Linked DNA regions of Homo sapiens: all the other regions are reported to be linked to region 1. Evidence: microRNA targets listed by miRTarBase, many of them from high-throughput screens and not tested one by one. Region 1 holds a microRNA gene; each other region holds the end of a gene's coding sequence.

What was found. The annotated mature microRNA hsa-miR-623 reads AUCCCUUGCAGGGGCUGUUGGGU and lies in region 1 at 2,203-2,225, shown strand. An mRNA with a match to its seed (bases 2 to 7 or 8) in the 3' UTR can be bound and repressed. Matches are read on the target gene's strand: a 7mer-m8 pairs with bases 2 to 8, a 7mer-A1 pairs with bases 2 to 7 and ends in A, and an 8mer does both.
Region 2: the mRNA of GALNT1 is a reported target of hsa-miR-623. The part of its 3' UTR that is shown has no 7-base or 8-base seed match.
Region 3: miRTarBase lists WWC2 as a target of hsa-miR-623. Seed matches in the 3' UTR shown: 7mer-A1 at 3,637-3,643.
Region 4: miRTarBase lists STEAP4 as a target of hsa-miR-623. Seed matches in the 3' UTR shown: 7mer-A1 at 4,183-4,189.
Region 5: the mRNA of GP2 is a reported target of hsa-miR-623. Seed matches in the 3' UTR shown: 7mer-A1 at 5,459-5,465 and 7mer-m8 at 4,637-4,643.

What each region holds. Positions count from the first base shown.
Region 1 is chr13:99,353,944-99,360,052 of GRCh38, forward strand. MIR623 (microRNA 623) reads left to right here and starts at 2,188; the gene lies at 2,188-2,285. The region is part of intron 7 of UBAC2 (UBA domain containing 2); the gene reads left to right. RefSeq lists an enhancer at 2,215-2,454.
Region 2 is chr18:35,706,921-35,712,979 of GRCh38, reverse strand. It overlaps GALNT1 (polypeptide N-acetylgalactosaminyltransferase 1), which reads right to left. Exons shown (of 12, transcript NM_020474.4): 12 at 1,146-3,356. The coding sequence ends at 3,210. It overlaps LOC105372064 (a long non-coding RNA gene), which reads left to right. Exons shown (of 5, transcript XR_935377.3): 2 at 1-994. Among named protein-coding and RNA genes, the nearest start is that of MIR3975, 120 kb to the right of the region's middle.
Region 3 is chr4:183,313,193-183,319,125 of GRCh38, forward strand. WWC2 (WW and C2 domain containing 2) reads left to right here. Exons shown (of 23, transcript NM_024949.6): 23 at 2,471-5,933. The coding sequence ends at 2,537. CLDN22 (claudin 22) reads right to left here. Exons shown (of 1, transcript NM_001111319.3): 1 at 4,908-5,933. Among named protein-coding and RNA genes, the nearest start is that of CLDN22, 4.1 kb to the right of the region's middle.
Region 4 is chr7:88,274,741-88,280,849 of GRCh38, forward strand. It overlaps STEAP4 (STEAP4 metalloreductase), which reads right to left. Exons shown (of 5, transcript NM_024636.4): 5 at 1-4,888. The coding sequence ends at 4,658. Among named protein-coding and RNA genes, the nearest start is that of STEAP4, 29 kb to the right of the region's middle.
Region 5 is chr16:20,305,625-20,311,441 of GRCh38, forward strand. It overlaps GP2 (glycoprotein 2), which reads right to left. Exons shown (of 11, transcript NM_001502.4): 11 at 3,950-5,657. The coding sequence ends at 5,599. Among named protein-coding and RNA genes, the nearest start is that of GP2, 19 kb to the right of the region's middle.

The DNA.
Region 1 (6,109 bases):
AGTCGTGAGTCACGATCTCCCACCCAAGATTAGAGCACAGATTAGCCATACTGAGATTTGGTAAAATCATTCTGTCTAAGCAATGGAGGTGTGTGCACACGTGCAGTGCCTGTTCACAGGGGATGCAGGCAGATCGTGGGTTTAGGATGGGGGAGGCCACCGCACCCCCCTTCACTGCTCTGCACCTGCTCCCTCACGTGGACACTGTCCACAACTGTGGCTCTCACAGGACAGTTGCCCAAGGAGCTCATATCTTATTGGAGATAGGGGGTTGTACAGGTGACATTCATGAGCAGTGTGAGCCGGGTGACATGGGGGTGTCAACCCAGCATCTGTCCAGGAGCTCCTCCTGCAGCGGCTCTGGCAGGTGGCCTGAGGCTCCTTTTTGAGAGAGAACTGTTTGGCCTTCCAGATGTTCTTTAATATAATGATTGGGAAGAGACAGCTCATAACTAGCTTAAGGCTATCTAGTCCAGCTTTCCATTTTACAGCTGGGGAAACCCAGACTCAGGGTTTTATTCTCTGTTCACTTGGCGGCTTGGCTGAGTTCTGTGGAAGTTCAGCAGAGCAGGGGAACAGGAGGGTTTGGGTTGCAGAGAAAGAAGCCACTTACAGATGGGAAACAGGAGTTGGGCCCTATGCAAATGGAAGGGACCAGGGAGGGCACTTTAGGTGGCAGGGACAGTTTGAGCCGACATAGTAATTTAGGATGTAATTTAGAGAAGTAATTTACGATGGGGCTGGTTTGGGCAGACCTGCAAAACAGGACAGACTCAGACAGGATGCCCGAGGGTTTTTGGTTGAGGCAGTGTCATTGTGAAAGGGCTTCTTGTGCACACTCACTGACCGTGGCATGCAGATTGGATTGGGGAAATCTTACTGGCAGTCATGTCATCCAAGAAGTTGTTGGCATAATCTCGGAGTGCAACAGCAAGGACCTAAACGGGCAGATCCTCTCCCAGGGGAAAATCAGTAGTCCTTCAGCGTTGGCTGGGTTTGATGGACAGAGGAGAGCTGAGTCCAGACATGAGCTGGGAAGTGGACATCCGCCTGCCACGGTGAACGCAGATAGGCAAGTGCGGGAATGAGACTCAGGTGGTCACTGAAGACATGAAAATGGATGAACTCTCCACGGAGGAAATGTAAGAAGAGGGGAAACCTTGAGTAATCCCCAGTCTCATTTTTAATTAGGAGTTTCACCTCTGTTTCTGTCAAAACATTTACTGTAACAAGTACCAAAACTAATTTTAATTTTGACTTTTACTTTATAATTTGTGTGTAGAGCCAATGCTGGGAAGGAAAAAATGACCCCAAATTTGGCAGACAAAAGAATGAAGGAAGGGAAAACAGAATATACGATGCAGAAATGGATAATCCACACTCTGAGAGATGCACTTCCATTCTTATGTCTTCAAGGCCACTGTCTCAGTCCTCGCTGTGTGGCCCTTACCGTCACCAGCGTTCAGTGCTTACAGGTGTGTCACTCAGTCGAGGGAGTGAGGAAGCTGCAAGACAAGGCCTTGGCATGCTCTTCCTGCGCTGATGTCCCTGACCTGCAGCTGGGCTGTGGGCTGTGGAACCCTGTGGTCCCCCCACGCCACCCTCTCACCACCACCTCCTCCTCACAGAGCAGCCTTAGCATTCTCATTCTCTACCAAAACCAAAACCAAACCAAAACACAGGAAAAGGTTGGGACACCTCTGGTCCTGACGGTCCCTGGAGGAAAAGTTCCCCATGAGGAGTGATGGGTCAGTCACGTTTTCAAAACAAACGAGAGCCAGGACGCAGGCCTGTGGCTCAGCCCGCAGCGTGCTTGGTGCCACAAGCCCCCCCGCAGCTGCCCAGAGTCTCACCCCACTCTGTGCAGGGGGCCTGGAGGGCAGCGGCGGCACAGACCCACTGGACGCCCTGGTGCATGGCTGAGCCATGTGCATCCCATGGCTCTCTCCAGAGTCCCTTCCCTGCACCTCCAGGGCCTCCCCAGATGGAACTGGCTGGGAGCCGTGCTTTGTTGAAACAAAGGGAAAACCTGTCTCTCTTGGGTTTGCAGCTGCTGTTGAAACCAACTGAACCTGTTTGTAAAATTGTACCTATGTCACAGTAAGATCAGCTGTGCTAGGTATGTCAGGCCTCTGAAAAGAAATGTCATTAAAGTAAACAAGACTTGGGACACATGTCTGTCAGACTGTACACAGTAGAAGCATCCCTTGCAGGGGCTGTTGGGTTGCATCCTAAGCTGTGCTGGAGCTTCCCGATGTACTCTGTAGATGTCTTTGCACCTTCTGTCCTCATTGCCATCCCCAATCAGTCCCTGGAACACCAGCTGTGGCCCTGACCCTTTTAGCCCCTGCATGGAATGCACAGGCAAGGCGTGTGGCCTTTGGGACTCCAGCCGACTAGAGCAAGACAGAGGAAGAAGAGACGGGGCAGAGGGCAGCCGATAGTTGGAAACTTCTGTCCCCTAAGCCAAAAGGTTCTCAAAACTGAGCAACAGGATGTATTGTGTCTCCTGATCGTATTGCCATGGAAACTGCCTTCTGTTCTGCCTAGAAGAAATAGTACTGTTTGAAGTATCTCATCCATCAACACTGGTCACTGTGAGAAACCACAAAGGAAAAGTGAAACCGAGAGCTGCAAAACTAGCCTGGGACTTTGTTCAAGCGATCATCTCCTTTCCCTCTAGTTTATTATTTTTTCCAATACCTACTGAGACTACTGCTAAGCAGCACAGAAAGATACAATACACTGTTTTTATAGCACGACACAAAGATCATGGGTGGCACTTCACATGACAGGGTTAGATTCAGTCTTCTGAGTTTTCTAAGGTTCCTATTTTTAAGACTTTACCAAGGAACCAAGGCTTTCAAATATGCAGCATGGTTTCTTCTGGGCCTCGCGTTGCCCCATCTCTTATCCAAGTGGTGAATGTGTTGCCAGTTTGTGTGTGGTTCTGGTGGTGGGCTTTGTTTGGTTTTCTTTTTTTGGGCTTTGTTTGGTTTTTCCCCAGTTTTGCCACAAAGCTTTTGCTGAGGACAGCAGCCTCTGTGGTGTCTTTTCTCTCTGTATTGTGCTCACTCTTGTAGTCATGCACCACATAACAATATGTTTTGGTCAATGACAGATTGCATGTATGACAGTGGTCTCATAAGATTATGATGCCATATTTTTGCTATGTCTTTTCTATGTTTAGATACACAACTACCATTGTGTTACAGCTGCCTCCAGTATTCAGCACAGTGACTTGCTGTACAGGTTTGTAGCCTGGTCGCCATAGGCTACACCAAGCAGCCTTGGTGTGTAGTAGGCGATCACATCTAGGTTTCTGTAAGTACACAGCAACAAAGTCACCCAACAGCACATTTCTCAGAATGAAGCCCTGTTGTTAAGCGACACGTGACTACAGTTTTAAGTCTAACAAGATGCCTCTCGTTCAGTCCTGAAGTGCTTCTTGTTTAGTTTTTAATGTACGTTTGTTTTGTTATCTCAGCCAAACTCTTTTCAGGGCCATAGGAAATTAGTCATTTCTCTGTGTCACAGCCTCCTTATCTGGCCCCAGGACAGCGCACTACGCATAGAAGGCAAATGAGTAAAACTAAGTGTAAGCATATTCATACTTACACCAAAAGCTGCAGCTTCCACAGAGCACAGGGAATTGCAAATAACTGTCTTCTATGAGGAGCTGCCATTTGTGGTTTCACCAGTTTCCCAGCATTGCTTCTTTGTAACTCCTGGTTCTTGTATTAGAAGAGGATGCTATGTCCATGAAGAATGTAGGTATCAAGCATGTCCTTTGGGAGCCTCCTTGCTTTAACCCCTCTCACCCCTTCCACCCCGCCTTCATTAGTAACCCATCACCTGGGTCTTCATATCCCAACTAACTACAGTCTTGGCTAAGAAAACCCCATACGCCTTAACTCAGCAATATGCCTCACTATGTCTTTGTCCATTCAGTTATCCATTTTGCAACTGTTTCTTGAGTGCTTGCATATGCCAGGTCGTACAGGAGGCCAGGTCTACAAACAGGACAAGATGGAGAATCACAGTCCCCGTGGAGCTAATAGGCTGTTGTGAGATTCAGGCCGGTTAGCCTGCAAGTGAAATGGGATGTGCTGAGAGCTGTCCTGGGGAAGGGATGGTGAGGTGTGAGAGCACGCAGAGGAGTACAGGGTGGTGAGAGCAGGCTCCCCAGCAGGAGTAGAGAATGTGAGGGCGGTGTTGTGAGAAAGTGACTCCAGTGGCAGACAGGAGTCTGGTAAGCCCAGGTAAGAAATTTCTGTCGGATTCTGAAAGCAACAGGGATGCATTGAGTAGCATCAAAGGGGAGGATGTCTGTAGTCATCCGAAAAGGCCCTTAATGTACTCTCCCTTTCTTTTCTAACTGTGTATCTATGTGGCTGGATTTGCTTCATGTACTTCAAAAACCAGAGTAACAGAACAAAATCGAATGCAGAAGCAGATGGGAGAATCCAGCAACCTTCTAGTAAGTCAGACATTAAAGAGATTTGCAAAAATGGAAAACAGTGCCACTCTTCTCAGTAATTCTGTTTGGGAAAACATGGTTATTTTTTATTTCAAAAATCTATATTTATGTTAGCAAGTAATAGGCTTGTGATTGTTAATGAGTTATTAAATATTTTTAAATTAATAAAAGGGCAATGAGGAGCCAGCAAAGGGTTTCTAAGTAGAGGAGGGGCTTGACGAGATTTGTATCTTAGGAACTAACTCTGGAGCCACCCCGGCCATGGACTGTGGTCTCACACGGGGCAGTGAGAGTGAGGGTGGAGACAGTGGCGGGGGAGTTCCAGTGGACAGAGCCTAGAGATCTGGTTTATGCAGTGGATGGATGTGGATGTCACACCCCAAGACAGGGGACACAGCAAGAGATATGGGGTGGGAGATGAGTTTGTTTGGGACGTGTTCTATCTTAGGTGTCTCCTTAACATTTAGATGAAAGTGTGTTCAGGAGACAGTGGGTTACATGGCTCTGAGACACAGTGTTTGGGTTGGAGGTTCGAGTTTGGGAGTCTCTACCCCATGAAGCCCTAGGAATGGATGGGCACCCAGAACACGGAAGAAGGAGAGAAACACTCCCCACATGGAACCTTCAAGAACACCCGTGTCTGAAGGACAGGAGTGGGAGGAGGAGAATCTGAGGACACTGAGAAGGCGTAGCTAGAGGGCTAGAAAGAAAGCGGGATGCCACAAAGCCTGGGGAAGAGAATGTCGAGGAAGAGTGGTCAGTAAGACCTGGTGCTGCCAGAAGGCAGGTCACAGAGCGCTCAGGAGGATCCACTGGATCTAACAAAGGGTGCTTTGATAACCTGGAAGAAAAAGGAAAAAGTGTTTCATTATTAAAATACCAGACTATGAGCTTCTAAAAGGCAGGGAGGTTGTCTTAATTCTCTTTCTACTTTTGTTGCTGAAAGTATTACCAGGTACATTAGTAGATGTGATAATTTTGTGATTTTACATTAACTCATTCAAGTAAAACGATCTAGTCTTTTTCTGCCCTTGATCTCCGTGGTAGGTCATCCCCTTTGTCAGAGACTCCTGTTAAATCAACCTGTTTCCTAAATGTGTAAGTATTTCCTTATGGCCTGGGGTAAAGCTTCCCAGCCACTGTGCCATGGTCATAGATGGGCTGAGATACTGGTCCCCTCCCCGCTTGGGGGCAACTGGAAAGGGCCTGAAGCCACTGGGCCAGCTGTAAACAGTTTTGGCTTTTCCTGTGGACCATGCAAATCTGTCTTTTTCTGTGTGTGCCATGAGGTGGAAAACATTTGAAAGCCTTGGTCCATAGCACACTGAGTAAGTCCTTGTGTGGGCCCTGCCTCGCCTCCCGTGTGCCCAAGCACAGCACCCCTAAAGAGTCACATCGCCCTTCGCTGCCTACCCCATGGTCTCCCCCAGAACCTTCCCTGCATGGTGGCCTGCAGGGGGCCACCGATTGTAGACTGGAGGTGCCCCTGCTGTGTGCTTCACACTTCAAAACCTGGCATGCTGATAAAGGCTTTCTGAGCACCAAAGACTGAGAAGAAAGGGTGCATTTGTTTCCAATGGCCAACAGTCTTAAAATAAGATGAAGATGCTTTTGGAAGTCATTTTGGCT
Region 2 (6,059 bases), not on the chromosome of region 1:
TTTCTACAAGATGGCCTTGTGGGATTTTGATCTCATTGAATCTAGATAACAATTTGTGGGGAACTGACATCTTACCATTATGCAGTCTTTCAATCCATGAGCATAGAATAGCCATTTATTTTGGTGCTCTATAATTCTTCCCAGCACTGTTTTGTAGTTTTCAGAGTAGAGGTCTTGTTGTTAACTTTCTTCCTACTTAGAAGTTTGACTTATTTGATGCTATTACAAATGGCATATTTTAACGTTATATTTTCAAGTGTTTGTTGCTAGGATATAGATACACAACTGAATTTCATATATTTGCCTCATATTCTGCAAAATTATCAGTCCTGGTAGATTATCAAGCAAATGCTTGGCAATCTTCAGGAAATCAGAGAATGGAGAAAATGTCATCTAATTAGAAACAGATCTAATTTTCCAAATGGCTTAAAAAGTGACTCATTCTTTGTATACAACCCCTCACAGTTATGACCTCAGAAACACTACCTTCTAAGTTTCTTTTTTCTTTGAAGAACAGGTAACTATAGAGTTAAATTTGCTCTTGGTATACTTCTTGGAAGATGAGAAGAGCATCAAATCCTTACAAAGAGGAACCTCTGTTTCTCAGCTAAATGTAGAATGGGAGCAATGAGGACATGGCCTGCACGATGTCCTCCATCTGCAGAATGGATGAATATTCCCAATGTTCAATGGCAGCACTATTTCTCAAGAATGCCAATGAAGATAGATATATTAAAATAGACCTTGACTGGGGTGGGGTGAATAGATTTGTGAGATTCAAATTATCCTTAATTGTCACATTTATGAATTCTTCACTGGTTAAATAATAATCCCACTTTTTCATCCTTCATTTTTTCTTTTTTTTTAAGATACATGGTTTCTTCTCTGTTGCCCAGGCTGGAGTGCAGTGGCACCATCATAGCTCACTGCAACCTCAAACTCCTGCCCTCAAGTGGTCCTATCGTCTCACCTTCCCAAAATGCTAAAATTACAGGTATGAGCCAGTACCCAGCCATTGTTTTCTTTTTCATTCTTTTCTTCCCAATTTGAGTTATAATAGAGTGATAAGCATCTGCCTAATTACAAGTAATTATGATAAACAGGGATCCACTCTAACTTCAAATAAAACCAATGTAAGGCACAACTATTCAGGAATATTTTGTATTTTCAAAGTATTTAGGAATTCTTTAATTAGAAAAATAAAGGCAATGGGATTATCTATCAGGTTCTAAAAGTACCCATGAATTAAATCACTTACATCTCCCATTTAAAACAAAACCTTAAATCACATTGCTGTTAAGCTTTCATACAGTAAGAAATAAGACCAAGCTATGCTGGAGTACAAAAACCTGAAATTCTGAGCATGAAAATAATTTATTGATTAGACATCTTGCTTATTCAAGCATTAGGCCTACTGGAGATAGAATTAACACAGCTCATGGAAAAGGAAAAAAATTCCATTCAGCACCTGCTTCCTTTCAAATTTCCTGGGGACATGGTTTATGCATTTTGTACTATAGACTCACCCTAAAGCATCCCCATGTGCTTGATGTTGATTAACTTGAACAGGATATGAGAAACTTTGTGTACACTCAACTTGGCAAATATCATTAGCGATGCGACTTTTGGAAACATTCTTAGGCACAAGAAATAGCACTGCCTGCAGTGAAAGTCCTTGATAATCAAAGAAAAGAATTCCATTAAATATAATTTTACAAATATGAAAGAAAATATATGCATTTTTGCCAACAGACTGCTCTACATATCAGGAAAAATGTCTTAATGAGATTCCTCCTACGAGATTAAAAGGTTACCTTTTAATTGACAACTTTCAATTGACACTCAGGTGATTCTGTGGTATTAAAAAAAATCAGAGAAAAATAAAACTGATTTAGCCTAAATAAGATTTAGGAAAAGAAATGCAAGCCTATTAATATGGAATAATAGCTGCACTTCTTTGGCTAAGTCATTAAAAAATGCCAATTAAACATTTTCAGTCAAATTTTATTTAAAAAAAGCAGCAGATAAACATTACAATTCAATAATCTAATCTAAATATGCATTTGACAATGAAGCATATCTGAGTATGGAGTGAAAAAGGTTTTCCAAAAAACCATCAAATGTATTATCTCCAAATACCCAAATAATAAATCACTTCTGCAGGCCTTTTGTTAAGTGGAATCATAAACAAAGAACTGAAGATTTATTGCTGTGAAAACAAATCTGTGGTACAGTAGCATGAATCTTGGGTATTTCGCATAATCAGTTAGGTCAAGTGAAGAAGTCGAAAATGTGATAAGAAATTTGTGTGTGTGTGCACATGTAAATCTGTAAGCCAGTTGACCCAAGAGCAACTGAAACATCTAATTTGTTCAGCTGAGATCAGACATTGTTAAATTTCCATTTTTTAGAAGGCAATTAAAAATTACAATTCCAACAGCCCACAAACCAAACAAAAAAAACTGTAGAGAGAAATTAAAACTATATTCAAAGAGCCTTTTTTTTTCAGCTCAATTTCAGCACCCCAAGGAAAATAAAAGCATCCATGACTATCACAGATGAAAACAAAATGAATGTCATTGGAATCAGTTATTTTTCCCCACTGAGGTATAAAATCTATATAGAAATTTGATACTATACTATAACAAATTGTACTTCTCATAGTTCTGTTTTAATTTCCTTTAAACCCTGTTTAATATAGTTTTTTTGTTGTTGTAAAAATGTTGTTTTCATGATTCTGAATCTGGTTCCAGTTCTTTTATTTTTATATCAATATTTAATATACTGGCTACCAGTTCTAATCAGGAAAAAAAATCTTGGAAATCTCTTCATTATGACAGCACGTTCAGCAGAAACTACTGATGTGCAAGCAAACCATAAAAGGTACAGTTCTCCAGAAAGCATATTTTGTTGATTTTTTTTCATTGTCTCAGTATTCTTTACCATGATTTTCGGAGAAAGACTCTTTCAATCTTGTAAACATCAGTGTGCACAGTCTCATTACTATGCAGTTTCACGTCCATGGACAGGAAGGCTGGTTCACAGCTAGTGAAAAGCTAGAGAAGTCTAAGTTTTAATGGCTGATAAACCTTACATCCTGCAGAGGAGGAAAGCACTTTTCCTTTTTTGCTACTTAAGAATGTGGCAGAAATGTATGCTGAGGTAGCCCAGTCAATCCTTATTTTTTTCGTTTTTTTGTAAATTTGGTCTCAGAATATTTCTGGCAGGGTGACGTTTCGAAGAAGCCACTGCTGGGACCGACTTCCATTGCAGTCTCTAATGCTGGGCACCTGGCTATCCTCTTCTGTGGCTTTATCCAGGCACTGATTACTGTTCACATGCTGCAGGGTTAATTTCTGAAATAGAAAAAATCTTAACATGAGAGTGGAAGAAAACAAAACACCTCAAGCATCAGTTTTGGTGATTAAGTTCCTCTGCAGAAAAGGTGTTTTTTTTGGTAATATACATTATTTAAAAGACAACGGAGAAAAGGTAGGTAGGTGGATGGATGGAGAAACAGAGAGAGAGAGAGAGAGAGAGAGAAGTAGGTAGATATGTAGGTCGATAAAGAGGTATGAGGGAGGGAGAAAGGCACTGGGGTCCAGTAGGGTACACTTGACTTGCTGCAAGATGACCTAAATTCTAAGTCCTAATTCTGGCATAAGCTCTGTAACACTATGAGAAGCTTCTCTTTTTTGTGCTTCAGTTTCCTAAACAACAAAAAAAGACCAGATTAGTGGTTCCTAATTTAGGATCCTCAACCTATTTTCAAACAGCTATTTCAAAATTGTTTCATTTCTCTATGATAAGGCTGTTCAAGTTAATTCTGTGATTCCAAAGCTCAAGTTTTTAGAAACTCAGGTCTTTCTGATAACTCAAAATCATAAGAATGTTGGGACAGCTGATATTTAGTAAAATCAATCTTATGCCTATGTCCATAGCAAACCCAGAGGCTATCCTGGTGGTTAAAGGAGATGGTGTGGTACAGAAAGAAAAGCACAGGAATGTGGAGTTGAGTTCACAGCCTGGGTAACTTGAGGTTTCTCATTTTAAAAATTAGGATCACATTACATATTTTGAGCAGATTTTGGGAAACTACATAGATAATGAAGATAAAGTACATAGTGCCTCACCTACAAAAGAGATTCTTAATAAATGGTTAACAGACATAGCTATATATTTTATCCACTTATTTAAGTTCTAGATTTGATGCAGCAACATGTTATTAGGATAATTTTGAAAGGGCAGGGCAGGTAAGAATTAACAGATAGATAGTTAACAATGATCCACACCAATGATTGTGATAATATGCTCTGGTCATGTTAAGGACTTCAAAGTAGTTGTATACAGGAATGTGCATTAAGCATTACTCTACAAATGTAAATTAACTCGAAGGAAATGTAAAATGTTTAACACATAGTTATCTGATTCTTTTACTCATGGCTCTATTTTAATGTAGTTCTTTTATCTGAAACATTTCATTTTCATGAGGCCTTTTTTGCACCTATTAGAACTTAAAACAAAATCTAATAATTGTATACAACTACTTAGGCTTCCAGTCATTTATTATTCTTCCGTGTTGTGGTCAAAGTAGGACCTGGCAGATGACAGTCTATCTTTGCAGATGTCACTACTGATACTGTCTTTAGGTTCAGGATTCTATCTTTAATGCTTCCAAATATAAGACTAGAACCTAGAAGAGAGTCAGCATGGCTGTGGGAATTTTTTTTTCTTTTTTTAATGCAGACTTTGTGTAGTTTATTGAGAGGAGGGGCTTTGCAGTCAGACATTCCTGGGGTGATTTCCAGATTTGTCACACACCAACTATATGCTTCTGAGCAAAAACCTAAACTCTTTGAGACCCAGTTTCCTCATCTATAAAATGGGGACAAAAATACCTCACCGGGTTTTTATGAGGAAACACTGAGATAATGTACATAAAGTGCTGCCTATCCCAGAGTAAATGCTTGATAAATGGTACAATGACATTTACATACAATGGTAATTTGCATTTATAGAGTAATGCTTATTATTGGAAAACACAACATCCTGGCAACGTCCTGAGCAGTCATGGACACAATCCAGCAGCCAGAGCGCTGCGGCTCAGCGTGCACATTGCTGCCAGTGGCTTCAGTCTCAGGAAAGACCAGAACAAGAGAACCTCTCAAACATTCCGGGAGTTCCCGCAAAGCTTATCCCAGTGGCCTCCCTCATCAGGCCCATGGTCACTATTACTAAAAACAAAAAACCCCCAACTAGGCACAACAAAAAATTTAGTTGGGAGAGTTGGTCTCTCTTAACCTAGTTTCTAAAAATGTGCATTTCACTCATCTAGATTCATTAAAATAAACCCATCACAAACACATAGGTTATTGCTCTGTGCTGAGTATTTAACTATTCGACATCAGGACAGAATCCCCATAACTTGGAAGGTGAGCAGCACCCCCAGGAAGCCTAGACTCTGGTGGAGAACCCTGTTCCAGATACAACTCTGGCTGCTGACAGCAGGCACAGAGCCTTGTGGCTTGGAACCTTGTGGGTAGGATGCTGTCATCACAGCACTCCTCAGAGGACTCAGGCAACACCAACTAGTCTCCATTCAGAGAGAGCTGGACTAAGGCATCAGGACAAGCAAGTGACAAGCATCTAACCGTAACCTTTGAAGGAGAGGATAAAAGCTATAATTAATCATTTAGTAAAGTCTACCTGCATCCTAGAAAAAATAATTTGCCAAGCTCCTACTCCTAATTTCTAGATGTAACTAGGTCTAAAATCTGCATTTTATTCCAGAAAGGACAGATACAAGTAGTCAAAGCAAAAGAGCCCAGTGCCTTATTGTAAATTTTATGTAATATGTAATACAAGCAAGACTCAAAACTATTAATCAAAAATAGCGTGGTACTGTGCAAAGAAACCTGGATCGAGAATCTAGAATTCCAGATTTGAGATCTAGTCATACTATCTGGCTGCTCAGAGACCTTGGGCAATTAATTTCCTTGGGAAATTAATTCTGAGTTTCAATTTCTACTTGTATAAAAAGTATCCTGGGTTTAATTTCT
Region 3 (5,933 bases), not on the chromosome of region 1:
AGTTGCCAGCTGGTGAGCCTGCCCAGGAGAACTGGGCTCAAGTTGCACAGGCCTTGGAAGCTGTGCAGAAGGCTTCCACCCGTGGTCTCTGACGGGCGGCCAGCAGGGCTCTCCGTGCACAAAACCAAATGATGGGGATGGGTTTTATGTAGGGCAGATATCAGAGGCATTGTGGAGAGTGGGCTGGGGAGAAGCGGGTAAGGGTGGCCAGTTAGGTTCATGGGAGGTTTGTGGGGGGCAGTGGCTGCCCTGTGGTGCCAGCGCTCGAGATGGAGAATGCTGGGGAGCAGGGGTGTGGGGAGGATGCTGACCTCTGCCATGGCACACCAGGCAATGCCAGCAGGCTAGTGAGATAACCATGACCAGTAGACAAGTGGAAATAAAAATCTAAAGCCAGGGTTAGGGGTCAGGATGGAGATTAAAAAATGGGAGTGCTCATCTTCAATGCATTGGTCTCATCTGTGGAAATGGGCCAGACATCCCAGAAAATGTGAGGTGACTGGGAAAGGAGGCTGGTGGGCACCAATCACTGAAGGGCTCGCCCCAAAAGAGATGCTAGAAAGAATGGCTGGAGAGGTCAGAGGAGAACCAGGAGCCTGGGGCAAGAGGGTGGGAAGAGGAGATTGATGGAGAGAACTGAAAAGTACATCCGGGATCCCTGGTGAGCACACTAGATGGTTTCAGCCCCGACGGAGGGAGCTCAGCAAAAAGGTTTGTTCCTATTGCGTTTTTATTTGGTTTTGGTTGAGGTTTTGTATAGACGAGTCTTTGGAAAGTGTTTAGGCATAAAGGGGAGAAGCCCAGAAGAAGCGAGTGTTTTTGAAGTGTGGGGAAGCTAGGTCACGTGGTGGAGCAGGGACAGCTATGGCAGGCTGAGGTCTGGTACCAAGCGGGAGGGCAGGGCCACGGACCGTGTGGCAGCAGCAGTGTGCCTTAGTGGGCTCACAGCTCTTTCATTTTTCTGCAACACCCTGCAGTAGAGAGGTTTTTCCACCCTCTTTTCTGCTAAAGAATCACATTTGTGACTTTCAGGGACTACCACTACTTGGGTTTTAGAACTGCAGGTGAGGGGAGCCCATCCATGTCCCTGGTGCTGTGGTCACTTAGAGAATAAGCAGCATTGTCTAGCGTGGAAAGTCACACAACTCGCAGTTGTTGCCGAAACCTGAAGCAAAGAATCCACGAACATTCCCAGCTTCCCTTAAGATACGAAGCATATTATATCACCAGGGAAGTGACGAGAATGATGAGATGGACCAGGGTGAGACAGAACATGCTGGAAGCGTGGGATTTGCACGGCTACCGTTGCCTGGCCTGGGGTGGTGAGATCAGGCAGCGGTGGGGCCTGGGCCGTTCTGCCCGGCACCACCCCAGCTGCTTGTTTCACCTGGAATCAGGAGCCCGATGGTCCCTGGCCTTCTAATTTTTCAAGAGAAGTTAGAAATCAACAGTTTTCTGTGAAATATCTCAAATGCAGGTGCCGGCAACTACTTCAGGTATTTTTAAACACCCCAGTTAGCAGCTGCGCCTTAAGGCCTCCGCTGACATCACACCTACACTCGTGGCATTTTTTGTTCTTGTTTTCCTCTTATGAATTGAACAAATTTAAAGGACACTGTTCACAGCAGTAGCTCGTTCCAGTGTCCATAGTGTTCTCACTCCTCCTTTTCTTCTCTATCCTTTCTTAGTCTTCAGAACATCCCCACCTCAGCTCTGGTTTCTAACCCGCACCTCCTCCCCCATCTGGACTGTTCTTTCGCAAGGGAGAACCAGTGCTTGATTCTTCAGCTACCAGCATGCCCCTTGCATGTAATATGCCCTCAAGAAATACGTGCTGACGGCATAAATGCCATGTACAGTGTGAAGTTCTGTAGGGAAATAGACGCACTGTTTGTCTTTTTTTTAAGCACTCTCCTCACCTGAAAACCGCTCTGCCCTGTCTCAGCCTCTCCGCTGCTTCGGGACCAGGGCAGTTACTACCTTGCAGATAGTTCCTCCTTCTCCTTTCATTTGCGTCGTGGTGTCGCTCATCAGGTTGTCCCTGCCCCGGCATGGTATCGATGTAAAGACTTTTCCTGTTATTGTGTGCTTTTCTGTGAGGTTACTGAGAAGTTTCCAGGTAGGATTTTGGGCCTTTTGAGTCTTCTGCTACCTAGTTCGGAAACACCCATCCTAGACCAAACCCCTACTAGTTTAAAAACTGTCTTCTGTTGGAAGTTCCCTGAAGGGAACTTACGGGCTTGGTCTGTAGGTGACTTCCGTGATCCAGAGCTGCTGTTCTCCTTGATACCCCCCCTTTAAGCAGGCAGAGGCTCTCCTGATTTTAAATGGAGTTCTGCGTAAGGAAAAGAGCTTCTACCTGTGCTTGCAGAGACATCACTGCCACTGCAGGTCTTGGGGACTGTTTTAATGGTCCCAGAGTATTTTTAGCATCATATATAAGTCAATTTATTTCTCACCCCAACTCTAGGGAGAAGATTGCCTACTTCACCAGAGCAAAGATAAGCATCCCATCCCTGCCAGCTGATGATGTGTGATTACATGACTTAAGAAATTATTTTTTCATCTGTTCACTTTCTTAGGGAGGGTAAAAGACTGAAGATTTGTGTTTTTGTTTTGGTGTTTGGTTTTTTTTGGTAACGTAACTGTCAACTCTTGAAGAACTTTTATTTCACATCAGATTTTCAACACATTAATTTGTAAAGTACCTTGAGTGTAATTTTTATATGCTTAAAAAAGAAAAAATCATATAAGAAAGATGGGATAACCTGGTACACAAATGTTGCCCAGTATGTGCGCATTGCCAGTGGACTTCATTTTGTAAAAATGGAATAGAGGCAGTACCCCACATGTGTACTGTTGAGCCGGCTGTTGAGAAACAACTTGGTTCAGCCGGTGGTTTTGCTTCTCCTTTGTGTTCCTGTGAGTAGGCTGTGCCGATGGCAGCAGCGCCACGTGGTATCTGTGCGCTGGCGAGGAGAGGAGCGCTTTCCATTTGGAGGCAGTGTGAGCACACGCTGGAGTGCAGCGTTCCAAAGTCCGCCCGAAATGGATGCTGCGTCCACGGCCATCACCTGTGCGGGAACACCTGGTTTCCTTAAGACAATTTCCTTTTTGTCCTTTTATATTTTTCTAAAGAAAACTAAGATATAAACTACCAAGTGCTCTTAAGAATAAAAATAAGAATAAGAATACAAAGGAGCACTACTCTTGGCTACACGAAAGATCTTGGGATTCATGACACTGAGGGCAGGGAGAAGAAAGAACACCAGCCACGCAGAGATACAAATAAGCTCATCAAATGAGCAGCTGGTTTGTCTCACTCAGCCTGAATTTGCATTAAGTGTTCAAAAGTGAGTTTCTGGCTTGCACTAGTGTTTTGCCCTAAATCTAAGGATGGTGCCTAGTGGTGGCCCTGTGTTCTGAGGACAGAGAGAGCTGGAGGGGTGGAGGGAAATGCATCGGCACTCATTTGGTGTAACCAAGAAGAGGGGGAAAGATGTCTTGATAGAATCAAAGTTGCCAAAAACAAAGAAGAGTTTATCAAGCAGATTTCTAACATTTAGTAGAAACTACTTCATAGCTCTCATTTTTAGGGGGTTCTATCTATAATTTATGGTAAATAGTTGGGAGGCAAAGGGAAGAATGTGTGTGGGGGGATTATTAATTTGAAGTATAAGCTAAATTGTTTATTAAAAAGCCTATTTTGGATGAACAAGTTTAGAGAGATAAACTGACTAATGTGTCCTCCAGTTTAGAATTTCACCTTACCCGACCCAGGCACTTCTTAAAAACACAGATCCTCAGTGCAGCTCTGCCAGCATCAAGGCTTTTAAAATATGTAGTATTTAGGCCATTTAAACCATACTTATTACTCAATAACCCAAGAAACAATTTTGGGTTAGCCATCTAATATAGCAAATAAAATAGATTTTTTAAAGAAATCCAAAATTGTCTTAAAGGAATGGACCCCTTGAAGAAAAAAAAAAAAAGTTTTGTTCCTCAGTTAGAATGCTCACTAGCTCACTAGCAAGAATTTTTATTTTCTTGAAAGCAATTATATATATTTTGGAAAGTTCATGTTATTGGAATTGAAGTTCAAATTAAGCAACTTCTGAGCCTAGAACTTTAATTACTTTTTCCTAAATGTCCCAACACTTACATACAAATTTCTTTGAAGACATAACTGGACATGGCAGACACTGCTTTGAACAAAAACCAGCCTAGTGAATTGACTGAGTACAGTCCTTTAAGGCTGCCCAGTTCATTCTATTAGATGACTAAGGAAAACTAGAAAAAGAATACAGTTCACCCTTGTCAAGGTCAAATGTGAAAGACAGAAGTTTATTTAATGTAGAGGTAAATGAAGGTGAGCTGTTTTCAGCATCTTAGTTTGACCATGAAAATGTCTATAGAATTATGTGTAGTTGTTCCGTACGATTTTATTTTCTTCATTTATTTATTTACAGTCTTATTTATGTTCTGTTTAATATATAGTTTGATTCTGGCCATTTTAAATATTTGACACAGAAGAGACTATATTGGAATATTTACAGCTTTATAAGTCTTTCATCAGATTAGCTGTTGACTTTTTGTAATACAAAAAGTTTCAGACAAGTATTAAAGAATAAAATCTGTCTCAGGCTGGTAGTTAGCAGTTGTGACCAAGATGCTTTTGGTTGTTGTATTTCACAAAATTTCCTCATTTCTAACATGAGAGATGAACTTATTTTAATATAATCCTTTTTCTACACTTTAAAAGTCAGCAATAGTGTTATGTATTTATAGGCAGCTTTTAATAATCTTGTCATATTTGTACTAACCCAAATGATTCACAGTGACAAAACATTTTAATAACTTGATCACAAAACCATATGGACAAATATGAATTTTAATATTATAAATACTATTTTTAAAAGGTAGAATTTATTCGCACAGGGTAAAAAGAATGTAATATTTAGTTCTCAAGTTTGAATTATCAGTATATTATTACAATTTTGTATATCAGAATCTTAAGTGTTACAGGTACAAAAAGAATATTGCTAGCCAAATGAACAAAGTTTAGCTAAATCTCTGTAGCATGCAAATCAAATAAATTAAAATTTTTTGCTATTGCTTTATCTATATTGTCTTAAATATCAAAAGCTCAGGACTGAACTTAATATTTAATCAGGTTAAATTCTGAACATGTTTCTGTTTTAATTTGTCTTGTTTGTAAACGTATGCAAATACATCACATAGATTAACTGGTTTCTGCACTTTCCATGTGTTTGTGGGTGGAAAAAAATTCAGTGGTTTTTTTTAAAAAAAAAAGCAAAAACAAAGCTACATATTGCCTAATACTCTATTTCAGTGTCGTTTATTGTTCAGTTTATTTCCCTGATTGGCACAAACACAAGAGTTTCCTTGAACCATGTACCAAGCAAATACAAAATATTTCATGAAGAAATCCCCAGGCTGGCAGTTTGTGATGAATAGTTCTTGTTGGAACTATATGTATTGCTGATAAAAAAGGACGAAGTATTTTCATTGAGCAAATAAAATGAAGGGCTCCAGAATATGTGCTCTGTGGTCGCTGCGCCTGGGCTGGCAGTGTGCTCCACAGAGAGGCAGCCGTCCCAGGAGGTTATCTACCCACACACCCCAGTCCTGCCCTGCCGTGCCCCCCACAGGCTGCTCAGTGCCTGGGAAGCCAGAAACGCTGCCCGTGAAATACAGAACACAGGATGCAGAAGCACGTTTGTGTGGCAGAGTCTACTTGAATCATCCAAAACCCAAGATCGCCCTCCTGCCTCTGACAGTATAGAAGGCGTGACTGAATGTGGCTGCCTTTTGAAAAAGGTTCCATAGAGACACTGAGGTCTCTGATTCAGAAGGAGATGATGTGTCTACACCTTTCACCTCTGAAGCTTCTAAAGAGCTAGTAATTATTT
Region 4 (6,109 bases), not on the chromosome of region 1:
TGTTCAGGAAAGGGGCAGATGATTCCCAGAACTGAGGGCTCCTCCTGCTTTTAGAACATATAGGGTAACTTCTGGATGTGGCCATGGAATTTGTAAACTGTCATGGTGCTAGTGGGAGTGTATTTTAGGCTGCTAATATATTATAATTAGCATATAATGAACAGCTGAGACAGCCAAAGATCACTTTCATTGCCATCTTGGTTTTGGTAGGTTTTGGACGGCTTCTTTATTGCATCCTGTTTTATCAGCAAGGTCTTTGTGACCTGTACCTTGTGCTTACTCCTATCTCATCCTGTGACTAAGAACACCTGCTGTCCTGGGAATGCAGCCCAGTAGGTCTCAGTCTTATTTATTTATTTATTTATTTTGAGACGGAGTTTCACTCTTGTCACCCAGGCTGGAGTGCAATGGCGCGATCTTGGCTCATTGTAACCTCTGCTTCCTGGGTCCAAGCACTTCTCCTGCCTCAGCCTCCAGAGTAGCTGGGATTACAGGCATGCGCCACCATGCTGGCTAATTTTTTATATTTTTAGTAGAGATGGGGTTTCACCATGTTGGCCAGGCTGGTCTCAAACTCCTGACCTCAGGTGATCCACCTGACTTGGCCTCCCAAAGTGCTGGGATTACAGGTGTGAGTCACTGCGCCCGGCCAGTCTCAGGCTTATTTTACTCAGCCTCTATTGAAGATGGAGTCACCTGGTCCAAATGCTTCTGATACATTGAAGAGTAACTTATACTCTTTTCCCAAATTCTACTGAACAAACCTTTAGAAGAGTGAAGGATTTTTCTAGAATGTAAACCTAATTCATTATAGAAAATTGAAGTAGGACCCTGTAAGGCTATCTGTGGGCTCTCATGGGGTGTGTGTGTGTGTGTGTGTGTGTGTGTGTGTGTGTTGGAGAAGTGGTAGTGAAGATGATGGTTGTGATGATGGAGAATGAAAATTGCAACTACTGTGTGCAGTACCATGACTGCCATTACACCTTAATTTTGGAACAGAGTTCCAGAAGCTTTTATGCTCTCAGAGGTGAAATGCATAATATGCATTTATCATTATCATGGCTCTTTTGTGATCCCTGAACAATAGATGAATGAAGAGCTCCTGAATGAATTTCTAATTGAAATGGCTTTTTCAGTAGGGGCTTTCCATTTGCTTCCAGCTTCCTCCAGGTTGTCAGTCCTCTCTTTATTTGTAAGTTTTAATACTATTTTTGAAAGCAGGATAACACCCATCAGAGCTGCAGCAGTCCAGTTGTGCAAGGCATTTAATGCCCAGTCACGCAGTCTGAATCCAACCTGAAGTCTGCTTGTCAAGCCATTAGCCTTATCCCTGTGGCGTCTGCATGGAGAAGGAAAGCCTTTTTTACCTCCAAATTCTCACAAAAATCCAGCGTGGGATAGTGCAGTCCTCCCCATTTAGCCATCTGATGCTCTCCCCTCTCTGAGGGTAATACTGAAGCACACACAGCATACTGGACTGTGCCACCCCGCTGAGCTCAAGCTTACATTGCAAGAAGCTGCAGATCTGTTAATGCACTTTCAAACCCATGCACTGCCTTCTCTTTTGCTTATCCCTGAAGGGAAGTATTTTTAGTCCCAGATGCTGGAACTACTGTGATTCAAAACCTTTTAGTAACTTTATTTGGAATGCTGATGAGTTAAAACCAGAATTAAACAAAACTAGGAAATATTTTTAAAGTAACATTTAATGAATACACATTTATAAAAGCCATCATCCCTTAACATGGGGAAAGTGTACAAAAATAATGTGAAAGTGTAAAAATTTTTCTAGAATACAGGAAACATATCAGCAGTAAAGAAGTTTAGTTTAACTTTTTTTTTAAATGTAAAATAGTTTGGATCTGTTAAAAGGAATACAGTTCGCCCAAAGCACTTATTTTCATCTGTTGTAAACTCATTCTTTCTACCTTAAGTAAACTGGAGGAGTCAGCTGTGTTAATATGGTCAAATTAATTTCATAGTTTTGGGAGCAGGGAGGTTGTGGGAAGGACAGAAGGAGAACTTGGGCTTTCTTTGGTCAGCTGGTGGGGCTTGGAGCACTTGTGGTTGGGGCCAAAGGTCAGGTCTGGAAATGCAGCTATTATGCCAAAACCATCAGAGTGCTCTTTAGCTTCAGGCTTCATGAATTGCTTTTAACTACTCAGGTAGAGCATTTTTACTAGGCTATAAAAGTAGAGTTCATTTTTTTCTATAGGTCAGCATTTTACCTATGGATGGCATTTTCTATTTTCGGTGACGGACTATGAGCCAGGATAAACACATTACTCTCTTCTTTAACAAAAAGAGCATGGTTAACTCCAAAGACTTCTCTAGACCAGCCTGGATGGTACCTAAACTTTAATCAACCAATGCTCAAGTAAAAGAGCAGTATCCAGCCCCAGCACACCTAACTGTTTTGCATAACATAGGTGAGTAGTGACATTTTCCTTATCTTTTCCACTGATACTGTAGGGTCAGCACCGTATACCATGACTCTACTCAATGTCGTCCAACTTTTTGTATCCTTGCTTGGGTTTATCAAAGATAAGTTGAAGGAGCGTGTGTTCTGTGTACCTTTGCAACCAGTTATAAATAAACGCAAATTGAAATAAAAAAGACAATCTACAATGGTGCGATGAAAGCAACACCCTCATCCAATGGTAATTAAATTGATAAGGTCACTTTAGAAATGGCTTGGCAACATTATCAGTGCAAAGATATTATCTGAAATGTTATTTATTTTAGTAAAAAATGGATATAGTCTACATGTTTAATAAGGAAAGAGGTTTGAAAAATGCCTATTTGATGTGATATTATGCAGCCATTAAGAAAATATATTACGTAAGGCCAGATTCATGCCTGTAATCCCAGTGCTTTGTGAGGCGGAGGCAGGCAGATCACTTGACGCCAGCATTTCAAGACCAGCCTGACCAATGTGGTGAAACCCTGTCTCTACTAAAAGTACAAAAATTAGCTGGGCATAGTGGCACATGCCTGTAGTCCCAGCTACTCGGGAGGCTGATGAACAAGAATCACTTGAACCTGGGAGGAGGAGGTTGCAGTGAGCTGAGATCGTGCCACTGCACTCCAGCCTGAGCGACAGAGCAAGACTGTCTCAAAAAAATAAAAAAGAAAAAAATAATAAAAAGGAAAACAAAGCCTTTAGAAAAACAAAGCCTTTGAAAAAGGATGTAAAATTGAATATATAGATACAATTATTTTTAAAAAGTTTTATAGAAAAATATCCTGGATTGTTGATGTTGTTTTAATATATTTTAATCATTTTTGTATAATGTCATGTATAATATGTTATAATGAAAGTAAAAAAAAAAAAAGGTCTTAGCAGAGCAGGCAGAAAAATGCCAAACTCAGTGCCTTTTAGTTATTTTGATATGTGGGAAGATCATGCATAAGGCTCCTTTTAGCTCATTGCTTGAGCTAGGAAGGTTAATCCCCCTGAAGGTCACCTTGGAAAGGGTACTATCAGCACAGAAAAACAGTGAGAACCATCCTAAATTTCAGCAAGGATTTGAGAAAGATCCAAATTTCACATAATGATGAATCTTCACACCTCTCTGCCCTATGATTTTCCGTAATTTTCGATCATCTATGCATTGTTCAAATTTATACCTGCAGACTATTCATTTAATTTTACTCCTTACAATTATAATAGACTAAGACAGATATAGAAGCTACTTATTTACACTAGAAATTAATTTAATAGATGAAAAATATTGAGCAATATTTGGAATATAAAATTTACAAAGCATATTATAATACCTAAATAATACTTAACCTAATATAGTGCAATTTTACAATATTTATTTAGCTTGCTGTCTAAAATTCTGGTTTCTTTGAACTTTTTGATCAAGAACTTTTATCAACCCTTCTTTGCTTATTGCACAATGCAAGTGAAATCCAAGGGGATATCCCTCCATTTTTATTCAGTCTTTCCTATACCTATTCTTTATAGAGGAAGAATTACATGCCAGCTCTATAGATACGTATGTATCCAAGACATGGATACTTTTAATCAATTGTAAATTTTTCTTGTGTTATAAAAATAGTTCCTCTCAGTAAATATCTGTATTAAGAAAAGCAAAGTCAAGGGGTCATTTCACTAGAATTCATCATGGTAATATTTATGTTTGCCTTTACTTCCAAAAAACAACAAAAACCTCATTCCCTTTTTACATTTCATGTGACCCACTTCCTCAGATATACCTAATAAAGCCTTTATCAGTGGTCACCATTGTGCTGTTTTTCCTTTCACTTAACTCAGCCCTTGAGCCAGAGAAGGAAGCTGCAATACTTCTATTGGATTTTGCAAGACATTAGGTCATGCATGTTGCCCATAACAAGGAAACTCTTTAGTGTGAAACCACAAGGCTAGTCTCAATCTCAGCTCCATGGCCTCTGGGAAAATAAGAGTCAGGGACCTGCACTGATTCTTCACTAACCTGAGATAAAATGGTGTTCTCTTCCAGTATGTCAGTCAATTTCTCAAAGACAAGCAATGTTTCCCTCAGTCACGGTGTAAGAAAAAAACTTTCCTAACTGTACCCATCATTCTTCTTTAAACATTCAAAACCATAGTTCAGAAATCCAGCTAAATTGAACTTTGTTTTAAATATTGATTTTCCATTCAATGCTTTTTCTAGTGTTTTGAGTTCCTTTCCCAGCCCTGGCGGATCCTTGTAAGGGTGTTGTCTACACATGGCATGATTAGGACAAACTTGATCACCAGCACAGTGCAAGGAATGATAAGCCCTAACACGTAGGCTGCAGGAAGATACCATCTGAGATTTGAAGGGCTGAGGAATCTCTTCCCACCGTACACCAGGGTGTGGGCTGTACACAAGATCAGGGTCAAATAACCCAGTTTGGACTATAAACAAGAAACAAAAATATGTAAGTTAACATTATTTACATCTTAAAGTGAAACACTCTAAGCCAGTGACAGATATTTGTCAACAACCACAAACATTTGAGACCTATAATGTTTAGGACACTTTGCCAAGTACTGAAAAAAAGCACTAACCCTTCTTCAGGATGGTAAATACTTCATTTAAAACAAGATTATTTCTTACAAATGACATAGTAGCTTCACCTTAACCTAGCTGGATGGAAAAGTTTCCCAGGAGTAAACTCTTCCAAGTTAGAATAAATAATGTAGCTTGTCTTGGTTCCCAAAGGTGAAACTCTTTTATTTATCATCTTTTCTAGAGGTCAGAGATGAATATGACACAGTATGACCTCAAGAAGCACCATCTTAGTATATGTTACTGACTAAAACCAGATCCTAGCTCATTTCTATCACAATAAAGAGCAATAGCCAATCTTGTTTCAGCCTACATTTTAAAGCTTATTGTTTATTTCTGCCTTAATACCTTGAACAAAACTGCTAATGAGAACATGTTGACTGCATTTGGTCCCTGGGAGAAATTGCAAGACTTAAGATTCCAATAGTTCTATAAAATTCTAACCTAATTTTAAAGACTAATGCTCTTTTCTATTATACTCATAATAAGCATGCATCAGAATCATCTTGAAGGCTCATTAAATTTCTGGGCCACAGGTTCAGAGTTTCTGATTCAGTAGGCCTGGGCATGGCCTGGGGCTTTGTGTATCTAACAAGTTTCCAGGTGATGCAGATGCTGCTGGTCCTGGTGCCATATTTTGAGGACCACTGGTCTACAAGAATGTGTAGTTACTAACTGCCTTTAAAGAGGGGTTGGTTGGTGCTTGACATGTGGAAGAAAACAATTTTCCCTCTTACAGAAGAGCATTAAGTCTTCCGGTGTGATGACATCTATCAAATCTTGCTGTGAAGATTTTAAACTTTATCTCAACATCTGGTTTTCCATATCTGTATGTCCATGTTGTAAGGTTAATTTTTTAGATGGTGAAATTTTGTCTTGGGGTTTCTTTTTGCCTTGTACCTAGTACATCTCCACACATAAATTGTAATAGTTCTTAGTATTTTTCACCCTATAGTCTTAGCTGTAGATATGGAGGCAGTCAGGAATCTTGGCGAGTATTAAGAAATCAAATCATTATGGATTCTGCCTTTTGTACCTGGGTTCAACATTTTCTAATTTGAATTTTT
Region 5 (5,817 bases), not on the chromosome of region 1:
AAAGAAATCCACCCTCTTTAACATCAGCTAACAGCATAGGAGTAAATGCCTGGTACAGAGCCCAGAATTCCTATTTCACATTCTGATTTGGCACTTTCACCATAATGGGAAAATCTCCTCTACTTTTCCTGTGAAGCTGTTTCTTCTCCTTCTGGAAGATAACAGCAGGATGATAGAGGAGGTCAAAGGATAAAGAGAAAGGATGCAGCCTATTTCTTCATTTATTTGACCAATAATGTTTGAAAATGATGAAGTCCTTGTCCTCAAGAAACTAACAGCCTGGGGTGAAGGGTGCAGGTGGGACAGATGTAAAAACAATTTCAGATGCAGACGCTACATGTGATTATCAAAGTCTGTAGAGTGGCTCATGCCTGTAATCCCAGCACTTTAGGAGGCTAAGGCAGGCAGATCACCTGAGGTCAGGAGTTCGAGACCAGCCTGGCCAACATGGTAAAACCCCATCTTTACTAAAAATACAAAAAAATAGCCAGGCGTGGTGGCAGTCACCTGTAATCCCAGCTACTCGGGAGGCTGAGGCAGGAGAATCACTTGAACCGGAGAGGCAGAGGTTGTGGTGAGCTGAGATCGCGCCACTGCACTCCAGCCTGGGCAACAAGAGTGAGACTTCATCTCAAAAAAAAAAAAAAAAAAAAAAAAGTCTGTAAAGAAGAGGTCATAAAGTAGGGTAGTAGTTTTTTAAAATATATATCTTCCTTTTCTCTACTTATCATGCTCATGCTTTTCTCTACTTTCTTGAAAAAAATGGAATGTATTTTTTAAACTGTGTTGACTTTCTGGTCTGCTGATTATATTATTTGTCGTTTGTGGGTCTATTTTCTATTGATTGATTTGCCTACTCTACACTGGACAGGGGGATCCAGGAAGCCTTCATAGGAGAAATAACCCCAATAAGGGGAAGTGTCCTCCAGGCAGCAAAACAGCACACGAGAGTAGGGTAGAGTGCAATAGAACAGCTCAGGGAGCCTGAGAAATTCCGTGGCACTGGAAGCTGGGTTATGAAGGGGATATGTTTAAGGGCTAAGTCTGGAGAGGCAGGCAATGGCTCAGATGGTGAAGAATGTGATCTGTCAGGTAAGCAGGCAGAACTCATCCTATAGAAGGTAAAGAGCCTCTGGAGCGATCTAAAGGAGAAAGTGTCTTTTGTTTTAAATGCTCACTAGCTGCAGAGTAGAGAATGGATTGAGAGAGGTGAGCCTGAAGAAAGGCCACTTAAGAAGCTATTATGGTGGTTAAGGTGAGAGATGAAAGTAGCCCGGAAAAGATCAGATTCAATGGGGTTGAAGAAAAGTGGATGAATTTGATAGACTTTTAGAAGGGAGAATCTAATATGATAGAAAATATGAGGGTGATTTCTGGCCCTTCACAGGAGAAAGAGGCTGAAAGAGAGGAACGGAGTGAGGAGAGATTATGAAATGAGTTAGGATGGGTGGGGTGTATCCTCTGGGGTTCCCATGCCAAATTTCCTTCAGGTGACCAGTTTTACCTTTCTCCCTGCCACCTTCATCCCTGCCTGGTCATTAAGGATGGACATGCCACTTGTCTTTGCTGGACCTTAATTTCCATCCATGAAATGAAGGGACTGGGATTGAGCCCTTCCCTCTTCTCCCAGGCTGGGCTGAGCTCTCCCTTCTCTGAGTCTTGCAGTATCTGTCTCAGTCTTACACTACTAAGCTTTTGCTGCCCAGTATCTGCATTCTGTTTCCCCAAGAAGAGTTGAAGTTCTTGGAGGGGAGGGCACCTTAAGCCACTCGGTATCCTCTACCAGCTGCTTGCAAAGGCTTCTTCAAACCTGAGAGGCCAGTCTTCCTGGGTATGGAAGACTAGTCTTCAGGTTGCTTCTGGCTATCCCCAACATCCTTACTCTCCAGAACTTTCAGATGCTGGGTCCAGGGCCCATTTCACTGAGCCCTCTGCAGCTGGAATTTATCTTGCCCCAGAGCCCAGCTGAACAGCACTGGGGGTGGGAGATGTAAGCTGATGGGAGAGAAACATGGCAGGAATCCTGGTTCTAGGAGAGTTGGATCCAGATCCTGTGTCTCGTAGGGATGTATGTGTGTGTTTATGTGTATATGTATGCGTGCATGTGCAGACATATGTGTGTGCACGTATGACACATTGGAGTGTCTCTGTGGGTTTTTTTTCTGTATTAAGTTATATGTGAAGTTCCATTGGTGTGTCTGCACTAAATCATGATGCATAAGTCAGCGCACACATCTCAACATCTATACGCCCATGACTATTAATGCCTGTGTATGTGTGAGGGCCTTTGCTGGAAAATGCATGTGTCTGTCCACATACCTGTTTGCAAGTGGGTGCATATATGTTATACACATATACGTTTGTGTGTATATGGGTGCCGCACTGTGTGTGTGTGTGTTTATGTGTGTGTGTGTGTTAAGTGTTATATATAAATGGAGGCAGGATACAGAGTCTAGTTTAGAGCATTTGCTTCAACGTCTGGCTACCTGGGTTCAAGCCCTGAAATCAGCATTTAAAAGCTATAGGCCTTTGAGTAATTATCTTTTTAAAGCACCGGTTTACTCGTCACTAAATTGAAGGTAATAATAGTGGCTACCTTCAATGTCTAATGTGAGGGTGGAATGATATAATGCCCAAAATGCACTTAAAATAATGCCTTATACGTAGGGGGTGTTAAAAAATATTGGTTGTTACAAAGTAATTCATGACAATAAATATGTAAGTGGCTGACTTGAGGGTCTCTGAGGCTTTCTGCATGTGCATCTGTGCCTTTGGGCACGTGAGGTTGATATGTGTGTCTGTTAGAATGTGTGTGTTGGTGTGGATAGACGCCTCTGGGTATACAGGCCTGTGTGGGGGGCTAAGTGGGCATGTGTGTTTGTGGTTTGCCTGTGAGTGCCTCTATGTGAGTTTGTGTTCTGCCAGGATTGGGAACATTCCTAGGGAAGGGATTGTGTCTAATTAATTATTGTACCCAGGCCCTTGGACCCGGGACATAAAAACTGCTAAGCAAATTTGTGTTGACTGAATGAATGAATGAAGTGGACTGGACATTCAGAGATTGTTATTCAGACAACATGCCCATTTGTAGAAAACAAAAAGGTGTAAATAGCTAGCTAGCTAGATGATAATTGAGTAGGGAGGTATGTAGACGATAGGTAGATAGGAGGTAGATGATGATAGATAGATAGATACATACATACATAGATAGATACATAGATAGATACATGGATAGATAGATGACAGGTAGCTAGACAGATAGACAGCTGAGATTGGCTCTAAGTGGAATCCTATGTACTTTCTCCTGGAAGTTATATTAGAGTTCATATGTCTCAGGGTGCTCCAAAACATCGGCTCTGGCAGCTCTGTGAGTTATTATGGAGTTGCTTTGAGGGCCTTCAGAGGAAGGAATCACAGAATGGGAGAGCTAAGCTCCCCACCTGACATCAACAAGAATCTATTTGCTTTTAATCTCTGGTTGTCCAAGTCGAATTGTAAAGTTTCACTACTATAAATTTTTGAAAATCTTGTTACAGACCAACCCCTTTTATTCTACAGAAGGGAGCAGCTGAGCCTCAGAGAGGGGAGAAGGTTAGAACCTGACCTCTCTTTCAGGCCTGTTTCTACCATGCCACCTGCCTTGGGATGTAGTAAGTATGACTCCGCTAACTCACTGGGAAACAGAATGCAATTCTTCTCAGGAACCCGTCTTTTAGAGAAGCCACTATCATAGTGGCCCTTGGGATGTCTGTCCAAGAAATGACCCCATTTGTGTCAGACCTGCCCCATTAGGTCAGCCCCTTTGGCTATGTGCTAGATGGTCCCAGTCCCCTGGCCCAGACTACTGGACCCTGACCCAAGCAGCAAAATCAAATTCCCTGATGCAATTTGGAGGTGGGATAGCAACATGCTAACCAGTCTCTGTTGGTCCCTGAATTAGGAAGTGATGTGAAGCTAGAATGTCCATATTTAATCAAGGGATGAGTGAACAGGAAAAGCTGGCTTCAGAGACATAAAAAGAAAACAAAAGCGATGCAAAAATACACAGTCATAAAAGGCTATGTGGCTTCAGAAAGAGGAACAGAAGGCAAGACAAACTTTGGTTTCTTTTGGCTTGCCAGGCCCCACTCCCGGAGCTTGTGCAGCCTGGATGTATCTCTTGCACTGGAACTTTGTGCTCTTATGTCCTTATAATTAACTCCCTTTTTGCCTGAGAAATTGTGGTGGGTTTCTGTTTCTTGCAACTACACCATCTCTGAACAAGGCAGCACATTGGAACGTCTCCTCCAAGCAGATACACAGGCTCGGCACCTGCTGGTCCACCTTGGTTCCTGATGTGTCTCTGAGGCCAACTTTGCGAGGCCTTATCTGTAGCTGTGGGAAGGGCGTAAGTCAGTGTACACATGTCAGCATCTATATGCCCGTGAGTATTAATGCCTGTGTATGTGTGATGCCCTATTTGCTGCATCTGTGTCGGGTGCTTTGAAGTACTCATTAAAGGTCTCCAGAAAGGGACTTCACCCATCTCCTAGGCTTTGCAGTTTCATTCCCATAGCAGGACTGGTGCATTGCTTCTGTTGGGACTTCTTGCTTAATCCTTCAGAGCAAGCACAGCACTGTTTACAGTGAGAGGTACTCCCTTGGGTGATGGAGTTTCTGCATCAAATTAAGTCATTCCTCCAGCATCTAGGTCCCAAGGATGTTTGTGTAGTTCTCTAAGTCACAGCATGTCTGTGGTATGGTGGGGGATAGGGGAGCTATGGGGACTAGTTCTTCCTGGAGCAGAGTCTCCAAAAGTGGCCCTTTGACATGTTCCCATGGCAATTTTTGGAAACCATGATAGAAACAATCAGAGGAAGCAGAGTGAACACAAGGGTCAGTTTCTTCAATTCATGAGCAGTCAGAACAGGAGATGCTTAGGAAGGAATCGTGGCTGGTGCCTCTTCTCCATGCTCATCCCATACCCCAGTGACAGGATACCGCTTCCCTGAAGTTAAAAACATGCACCACACTTCCGGTAAAGGCTGGAGCCACAGAGGGCACCTAGCAAGCTTGCTTTCAAGGTCCCATCAACAAATGAGAAGGGCAGCCGAGGACAGATTGACAGAAACCCCACTATGTTGCTTTTCTTTTTTTTTTTTTTTTTTCCTGAGACAGAGTCTTGCTCTGTTGCCCAGGCTGGAGTGCAATGGCACAATCTCAACTCACTGCAACCTCCACCCCCTGAGTTCGAGCAATTCTCCTGCCTTGGCCTCCCGAGTAGCTGGGATTACAGGCGCCTGCCACCATGCCTGGCTAATTTTTGTATTTTTAGTAGAGACGGAGTTTCAGCATTTTGGCCAGGCTGATTTTGAACTGCTGACCTCAGGTGATCCACCTGCCTCAGCCTCCCAAAATGCTGGGATTACAGGCATGAGCCACTGCGCCCAGCCGAGAGTTTTAAAGAAGGTGAAAGCTCTTCCCTTTTCCTAACCTAGCTTGGCCTTGATTCTATTAATACCAAGCCTGTGTGAATTGGAGTGGAAAGCAGAAGTGCTGAAGGGAGCCATTGCCAGAGGGAAGAACACAAACTTCAAGGCCAGATGCTCAGCGGAGCTCTCAGAACAGCCAAGCCAGGAGGACAGTCAGGAGGACCATAGGCCAGGCCACCAGGAACCCTGAAATACAAGAAATATGACTGTCAAGTGTTGGGCTTTGGGAGTCAGGAGCAAACATAAGTTGGCCTCTTTGTCTTTCACAACACAAGGATGAGAAAGGCAAAGCATCTTTGATATCTGGCCTAGTTATAGTCTCTGGGACTCACATGGTAGAGGCAAT